Linked DNA regions of Homo sapiens. The protein of the gene in region 1 purifies or fractionates together with the protein of each later gene. This does not show direct contact. Each region holds a gene or a part of one and is shown in the gene's direction. Other genes may lie near its edges. The genes, in order: SPMIP6 and PSMF1.

Region 1 (3,816 bases):
AGTCTTTACCCTCTGAGACCTTTACCCTCCTAGACCAATGAATTGCACTCTTCTGACCACTCTCTACTCGTTTTGTTGTTGATGTTGTTTTGTATGTTAATCCTCCAGCACACAGGCTATGACCACACTCTACTTCTTGAAACAACTTCCTCCTCAGCTTCTCTGATGCCTCCCTTTCCTGTGCATCCACTGTGGAAACATGGGGTTCCTCAGGGTGTTATCCTGCACCCTCTTCTCCCCTTGCTCCTCCTCCAAGGCCATTTGATTTAACACAAGCCTTTAATTACTGACAGCTTCAAATCCTAATTTCCAGATTTGTCCTCTCATCAGAATTCCACTCTTCTTCATATGCTTATAGTCATCTTGATCTGGATGTCCCCAAACACCTCAGTTTCAGTATGTGCAAACTGCCATCCCCGAACTCCAAATCCCAGCACTGCACCCCTCCCCTCAGACAGCTGCTCTTCGCTAGGGCTTCCTCCACACCGTGTCGCATATGTATTCTTTCAGACTGTTGGATCATGGAGGGCCTTGTAGGACAGGCTTAGGTGACTGGGGGCTAAGGCAGACAAACCCTATAGGGTTTTAAGTAGGAGGGTGTCTTGGTCAAATTTTCATTTGTGAAAAGTACCACAGGTGCTATGTCAAGGCTGGATTATAGGATTTCAAAGGTGAGGCAAGGATAACAGTAGAATAATCATAATAGTTTTTTATGTGCCAAGCATCATTCTAAATGTCTTACATATACTAACTCACTTAAACCTCACAGCAACCCTGTGAAGTAAATGGTACTATTATCCCCATTTTAAAGTTGGAGAAACTGAGACACATCAAAATTAATTAATTCAGTCAGGGTCACACAGATAATAATTGTAAAACTGAAATTTAAACACAAGCAGTCTATCTGCAGAGATAGGTATCTATTAACCAAGACATTATATTGTCTTCTGGTTAAGGTGCTGCAAAGATATGGAAGTGAGATCATGGGGCACTGGAAGAGGAAGTAGATTCAAGTTATTTATCTATTTATTGAGACTGAGTCTTGATCTGTCACCCAGGCTGGAGTGCAGTGGCATGACCTTGGCTCACTGAAACATCTGCCTCCCTGGTTTGAGCTATTCTCATGCCTCAGCCCCCTGAGTAGCTGGGTTTACAGGCGCACACCAACCATGCCCAACTAATTTTTGTATTTTAGTAGAGACAGGATTTTGCCATGTTGGCCAGGCTGGTCTCGAACTCCTGACCTCAAGTGATCTGCCTGCCCTGGCCTCCCAAAGTGCTAGGATTACAGGCATGAGCCACCTTGCCTGGCCAGATTCGAGTGATTTTGAAGGAGGCAGAATAGGCAAACCTTAGAGCCTAGAGTAGAAGATGAGAGAGAGGGAGGAATTGGGAAGAGGCTCCTTGTCCAGGCTGGCTGATTCAAAAAGGGTAGTGGCAGGATGAAAAGTGGCTGGCACAGTGGATCCAGACTAAACTCAGAAGGTTGCCTTAGATGGGACATGGGCTGCATCTCAGTGTTTAAGACAAGTGTAGGCCCGGCTGGGCTTGGGGTCTCTGGCTTGAGGACAGTCTGTGAGGGTCAGCTTTGTGCTGGGAATCGGAAGAGAAACATGTAGGGGATCTCAGATCCTGGAGTAGAGTAAGAAGTAACACTATTTGACATCTCCACCCCTATTATCCAGCAGACAAATGCAGCCCAAACTACCTGGGCAGTGACTGGTACAACACATGGAGGATGGAACCTTACAACAGCAGCTGCTGCAACAAGTATACCACCTACCTTCCTCGGCTGCCTAAGGTATCTGTTGCACCCAGCACAGACGTCTGGGGACTGGGACACGCATACCCCACCACCTCCCAAACTACAGTGACTGATATTTCACCATTAGGTCCTCATTGCTTTCCCAACAAATGCCCCAGAGCTCTTCCGCATCTGTGAAACTAGAGTTTGTATTTTTTTTTTTTTTTAGATAGAGTCTCACTCTATCACCCAGGCTGGAGCGCAGTGGCGCAACCTTGGCTCACTGCAACCTCTGCCTCCTGGGTTCAAGCAATTCTGCTACCTCACACTCCCGAGCAGCTGGGATTACAGGCATGCGCCATCACATCTGGCTAATTTTTGTATTGTTAGTAGAGACGGGGATCTTGCCATGTTGGCCAGGCTGGTCTTGGACTCCTGGCCTCAAGTGATCCACCTGCCTCGGCCTCCTAAAATGCTGGGATTACCGGCATGAGCCACTGCACCTGGCCGGGTTTGAATTTTTTTAGTTGAAAAAGGAACCCAAAAGTAGGGCTGTGCTGGGCCCCTGGCTCTCAATCTCTGGGGATTGGGTGCCCTGGGCTCCAATCCCTGGCTGGGCTCTGTAGGGACATGACTGGTGTGCACTCCTTGATATACTACCTTTCCGAAGCTTGCCAGCTGGCCCCTCCCCATATAGTCTGGCCTCTGTGATACTGGGGCTAGCCAAGGAGTCAGTGATACAATGAATCTCCCTGCTCCACCTTCTCCTCCTTTGTGATGTGAGCACAGACGGAAGGAGAAAGACTAAGGCTACTCAATAGCAGTGCAGATACAGGAGAGTCTTCCAAGGACATAGGAGAAGGTCCAGCCACGGCCGCAAACTCAAGGGCACCTGAGAGGACCCAAAACCAGAGCCGGGGCTCTTAACTGCAGGCTGATGGCTGACCCTGGGTTGATGGAACCCTTTTGAATTAGAACTTCCTCAAGAATCGAATCTTTCACAAGTTCTCCGGAATGACAAGCAATATTGAAAACCCCCTATTAGAGAGACACCCAGACACAGCTAAACAGAGTCAGCTAGACAAAGAGGGGTAAAATCAAAGGCAAACGCTGAGACAGGGTTGTCACAGGCCCAGGAGCCAAACCCCATCCACCTTCAGCCCTTCCTACCCCACCCCGCCCCTGTTGGCGATGTAAAAGCGTTGCCCGGTGACAGCCGCCAACACAGAGCCCTGGAGAGGTGGGGAGCTGCTGAAGGGCGGGAGAAGTTGCGGCGTGGCGATAGGTCTGGGTGTTCTGGGAGGACCCCTAAAAGGGAGCAGCTCTGCCAGGTCAGAGCTTGAGGTAGCATGTGTGCCGCTTCCAGGAGGCCAGGATGGAGACAGCAGTTCGAGGAATGCCCTTGGAATGCCCTCCTAGGCCGGAGCGGCTCAATGCCTACGGTAAAGAGTGGTAGTGGGGCGTTGGAAAGAACGGGTGGAGAGGGTTGGGGAAGGCCGGGAGGAGGGCGGGATGGGTACCTGAAGGACGGGGAGGAGGCCGAGGGTCCTGGAGAGGGTGGAACCCTGAATCTATCCGTCCTGGCTTTTGTCTCCGCCTCACTCTGTCCGTGACTCGGCCTCTTCCCATCCCTGTGCATCTGTCTTTGGGTCTCCTGCGCTGGGGACCCGCGGGAGCAGAGCGCGAAGTGATGGTGAACATGCTGAACTCACTGTCGCGGAACCAGCAGCTGCCGCGGATCACGCCCCGATGCGGGTGCGTGGACCCGCTGCCCGGCCGCCTGCCCTTCCATGGTTACGAAAGTGCTTGCTCGGGCCGCCACTACTGTCTGCGCGGGATGGACTACTACGCCAGCGGGGCGCCCTGCACCGACCGCCGCCTGCGGCCTTGGTGCCGGGAGCAACCGACTGTAAGGTTCGCAGGGCTCCGCCCGCCTCAGCCGGGCTCCACCCCACACAAGCCCCGCCCCAGAACCCCGCCCCCTTCCAGCCCGGCCAGCTTCCGTGCAGGCCCCCAGCCTGCTCTAGCCCCGCGCTGCACGCTCTCGAGGCCCTGCCGTGTCCCGCCCTCGG
Region 2 (3,816 bases), on another chromosome or scaffold:
CCTGGTGGTTTTTTAATCAGGCCTGAATTTTACACATGCCTAGGGAGATCAGAGGCCTCCCTCTGATCTGATTAAAAGGAAAGAAGACTTGAATTTACCCTCCCACCCAGCTTGGGCAGGCAAGCAGCTCATTTTTTACCCATGGATGTCCAATGGCCCCAACATCATTTGTTATTCCTTCATTGAATTACTTTTGAAACTTTGTCAAAAATCAGTTGTCTGTACATCTGTGGATCTATCTCTGGATCCCTTGTTCTTTTCCATTGATCTCTATGTCTCTTCCTCTGTCAATATTACTCTATCAGTATTGATTATTGTAGGCCTTAATATTGAGTAGAATAATTCCTCCCACTTTTTCTTCGTCAAGGTAGTTGTAGCTATTCTAGGTTCTGTGCCTTTTCTTTTTTTTCTTTTTTCTTTCTTTTTTTTTTTCTTTGTTTGAGACAGAGTCTCACTGTGTCTCAAAAAGGCTCAGGCTGGAGTGCAGTGGTGTGATCTTGGCTCACTTCAACCTCTGCCTCCGGGGTTCAAGTGATTCTCCTGCCTCAACCTTCTGAGTAGCTGGGACTACAGATGCGTGCCACCATGCCTGGCTAATTTTTTGTATTTTTAGTAGAGACGGGGTTTTACCATGTTAGCCAGGATGGTCTCGATCTCCTGACCTCGTGACCCACCCATCTTAGCCTCCCAAAGTGCTGGGATTACAGACGTGAGCCACCGCACCTGGCCTCTGTGCCTTTTCATATAAACTTTAGAGTAAGCTTGTGTATATCTATGAAAAACCTTGCTAGGATTTTGATAGGAGTTGCATTAAACCTATAGATTAGTTTGGGGAGAATTGACATTCTTGCTATGAACATGATATATCTTATCTCTCCATTTATTAATATTTAGGTTTTATTTGATTTCCATCAGTATCATTTGTAATTTTCAACATATAGATCCTGTACATAGCTTGTTATTTGTTTAAAGCAGAAAGGGAGATGATTATGAATGGCATATTCTGTCCTTTGTTTTGGTTTTCAAATGTTCATTGTTAGTGTGTAGAAATGTAGTTGATTTTCCTGTGTTGAACTCTTCTATCCTGTCACCTTGCTGAATTCAAGGTGTTTAGGGTTTTTTTGTTTTTTTTTTTTTTTGGTAGATTCCTTGGGAATTTCAGGGTAGACTATCATGTCATTTGCAAATAGGGACAGTTTTATTCCTTACTTGCTAATATGAATGCCTTTTGTTTTTCTTGCCTTATTGCAGTGGTCAGGATGTCCAATATTATGTTAAATAAGAGTGATGAGAAAGAATATGCTTTCCTCGTTCCCAATCTTAGGAGCAAAGCATTCAGTCTTTCACAGTAAAGTATATTGTTAGGGGTAGGTTTTTTGTAAATGTTCTTTATCAGGTTAAAGAAGTTCCCCTTTATTCTTAGTTTGTTGAGAGTTTTTAATCTTGAATGGATTTATCATGTTGGATTTTGTCAAAAGCTTTTTTCTGTATCAATTGATATGATCATATGATTTTTCTTCCATAGCTTATTGATATGGTAGATTACGTTGATTGATTTGTGACTATTAACCAGTCTTGCATGCCTAGAACAAATCATACTTGGTCATGGCATATAGTTCTTTTTATACATTTTTAAATTCAATTTGCTCATATTTTGTTGAGGATTTTTTTTGTGTGTAAGTTCATAGGATATACTAGTCTATATATGTGTATATATATATATATTTTTTTTTTTTTTTTGGTGTAGTCTTTGCCTGGTTTTGATACCAGAGTAATACTGGTCTCATGAAATGGATTGGAACGTATTCCCTCCTCATATATTTTCTAGAAGTGACTGTAAAATTGGTGTTAATTCTTCTTTGAATGTTTGGTAGAATTCTTCCTGAAATCATCTGAGCCTGGAGATTTTTGGTTTTTGTTTTTTTATTTTATTTTTTTAGAATGTTAAGTGTAATTCAGTTTCTTTAATGGAACTATTCAGATTATCTATTTCATTTTGGCTGAGTTGTAGTTTATGGTTTTTAAGAATTGGTCTATTCTGAGTTGTTGGATTAAGTTGTTCTTAGTATTCTCTTATTATCCTTTCAGTGGCTACAGATCTATTGTAATATCTCCTGTTTCGTTCTTGTTATTGGTGACTGTGTCCTCTCTTTGTATTTGTCAGTCTCGCCAGGAGTTGGTCAGTTTTATTCTTTTTTTTTGAAGAATTGACTTTGTTTCATTTTCTCTCTTGTTTTTCTTTTTTATTGACTTCTGTTCTTACCTTTATTACTTCTGCTTGCTTTGAGTTAATTTGCTCTTCTTTTTCTAGGTTCTTTAGGTCAGAATTTTGGTTATTGATTTGAATTCCTTCCTCTATTTTGATGTAAGCATTTAGTGCTATGAGGTTTCTTCTCAGCAATCCTTTAGTTATATCCCACATATTTTCGTATGTTTTTATTTTCATTTTAATTCAGTGCTATATATTTCTTTTTTGTGACTTTGATCCAAGGATTTTCTAGAAGTATGTTGCTTAATTTTCATGTATTTAGAGAGTTAACTTTTTGTTTTGATTTCTGTTATGATTCCATATGGTTGGAGAACATACTTTATATGATTTCAGTTATTTTACATTTGTGAGCTTTGCTTTATGGGCCAGGATGTGGTTCATTTTAAAATACCAGTGTTTTAGGAAGCCTGGAGTCCTGCCCACTCTGTTACCTCAGCCTGCCTCCACACCTCAGCTGTGGCTCACGTCACTTGTCTCTCACAGGCATAGAAAAAGAGGCCCAGGCAGGATGGGACAGGTGGTAGGGGCAGCCTTCCGAGGACCCCTGAGTTAGTGACAGAACTGGACCTTGAACCCCCAGAGCTCTGCCTGCCTGGAACAGGAACCTGGTTCATCCTCCCCATGGAGCCTTTGCCTTCCATGACCCTTCCCATGACACGTGATGAACACACAATGAAGCTGAGGGAGGGGTGAGGCGGGTGAGGACAGAGGAGTAGCCAATCCAGGCCCTGTGCCCCTACACCCTCACCTCTTTCTAATGGGGTGGTAAACAAGGAGGGGCAACTCAGATGCCTAAGAAGCTTGGGCCCAAATCTCAGAGACAGCGTGGGGCTGTTGCCCCCCTCACCCAGGTCCAGCAGGCGGCCTGTTCCCCCACTTATAAACAGGCCAAGCGCAATGCCAGGAGCTATCAGGGCCGCCGCCGCCGCCGTCGTTGCAGCCAGAATACCACTTCCAGGGTTCCTAGCCAACTGCAAGCAGTTGACTCTTCATCTGCTTCCTGCAGGACCTACAAGAACAGTGAGGAGCTTCGGTCTCGTATTGTGTCTGGAATCATCACACCTATCCATGAGCAGTGGGAAAAGGCTAATGTAAGCAGTCCCCACCGGGAGTTCCCCCCTGCTACCGCCAGAGAGGTGGACCCACTCCGGATTCCTCCACACCACCCACACACCAGTCGGCAGCCTCCCTGGTGAGTACAGAGTGCCTAGCGGGAAGCCCATGCTTCTGTAGAGGGATTCCAGCCAGCTATCCCCATCCTGCCACTTGACCCCATCCCTGGCCCGTATGTGTTTTCAACAAAATGATCAGTGTCTTGGGGTGCATGGAGTTAGAAAGTGGAGACGTAAGTGGAGCAGTGAGTTCTTGAACTGCTACTAGTCACCCTAATTACCCAAAATCCTAAGCCTGCCTGATTTCTTTCTAGGGGCCACACAGAGCCCCTGAGTCTGTCCAAGGATCAGTGCCTCTGGGGCTTATGTGCAGTAGTCTAAGGTTGCTGCCCAGGTAATTCACAGCTAATTCATTCCAGAGCTTTTTGTCTAGAC

The links.
Region 2: the proteins of SPMIP6 (region 1) and PSMF1 purify together in Homo sapiens (affinity purification with mass spectrometry; 2 studies listed by BioGRID and IntAct, with this or other methods). This does not show direct contact.

The regions. Positions count from the first base shown.
Region 1 is NC_000009.12:34,380,739-34,384,554, reverse strand, and holds part of SPMIP6 (sperm microtubule inner protein 6), read left to right. Parts: intron 1-1,685; coding exon 1,686-1,801; intron 1,802-2,429; exon of another isoform or gene 2,430-2,835; intron 2,836-2,845; exon of another isoform or gene 2,846-3,110; coding exon 3,111-3,186; intron 3,187-3,264; exon of another isoform or gene 3,265-3,423; coding exon 3,424-3,653; coding exon of another isoform or gene 3,654-3,658; intron 3,659-3,816. UniProt on the Homo sapiens protein: May participate in intramanchette transport and midpiece formation of the sperm tail. May play a potential role in somatic cell proliferation.
Region 2 is NC_000020.11:1,131,846-1,135,661, forward strand, and holds part of PSMF1 (proteasome inhibitor PI31 subunit), read left to right. Parts: intron 1-3,275; coding exon 3,276-3,461; intron 3,462-3,816. UniProt on the Homo sapiens protein: Plays an important role in control of proteasome function. Inhibits the hydrolysis of protein and peptide substrates by the 20S proteasome. Also inhibits the activation of the proteasome by the proteasome regulatory proteins PA700 and PA28.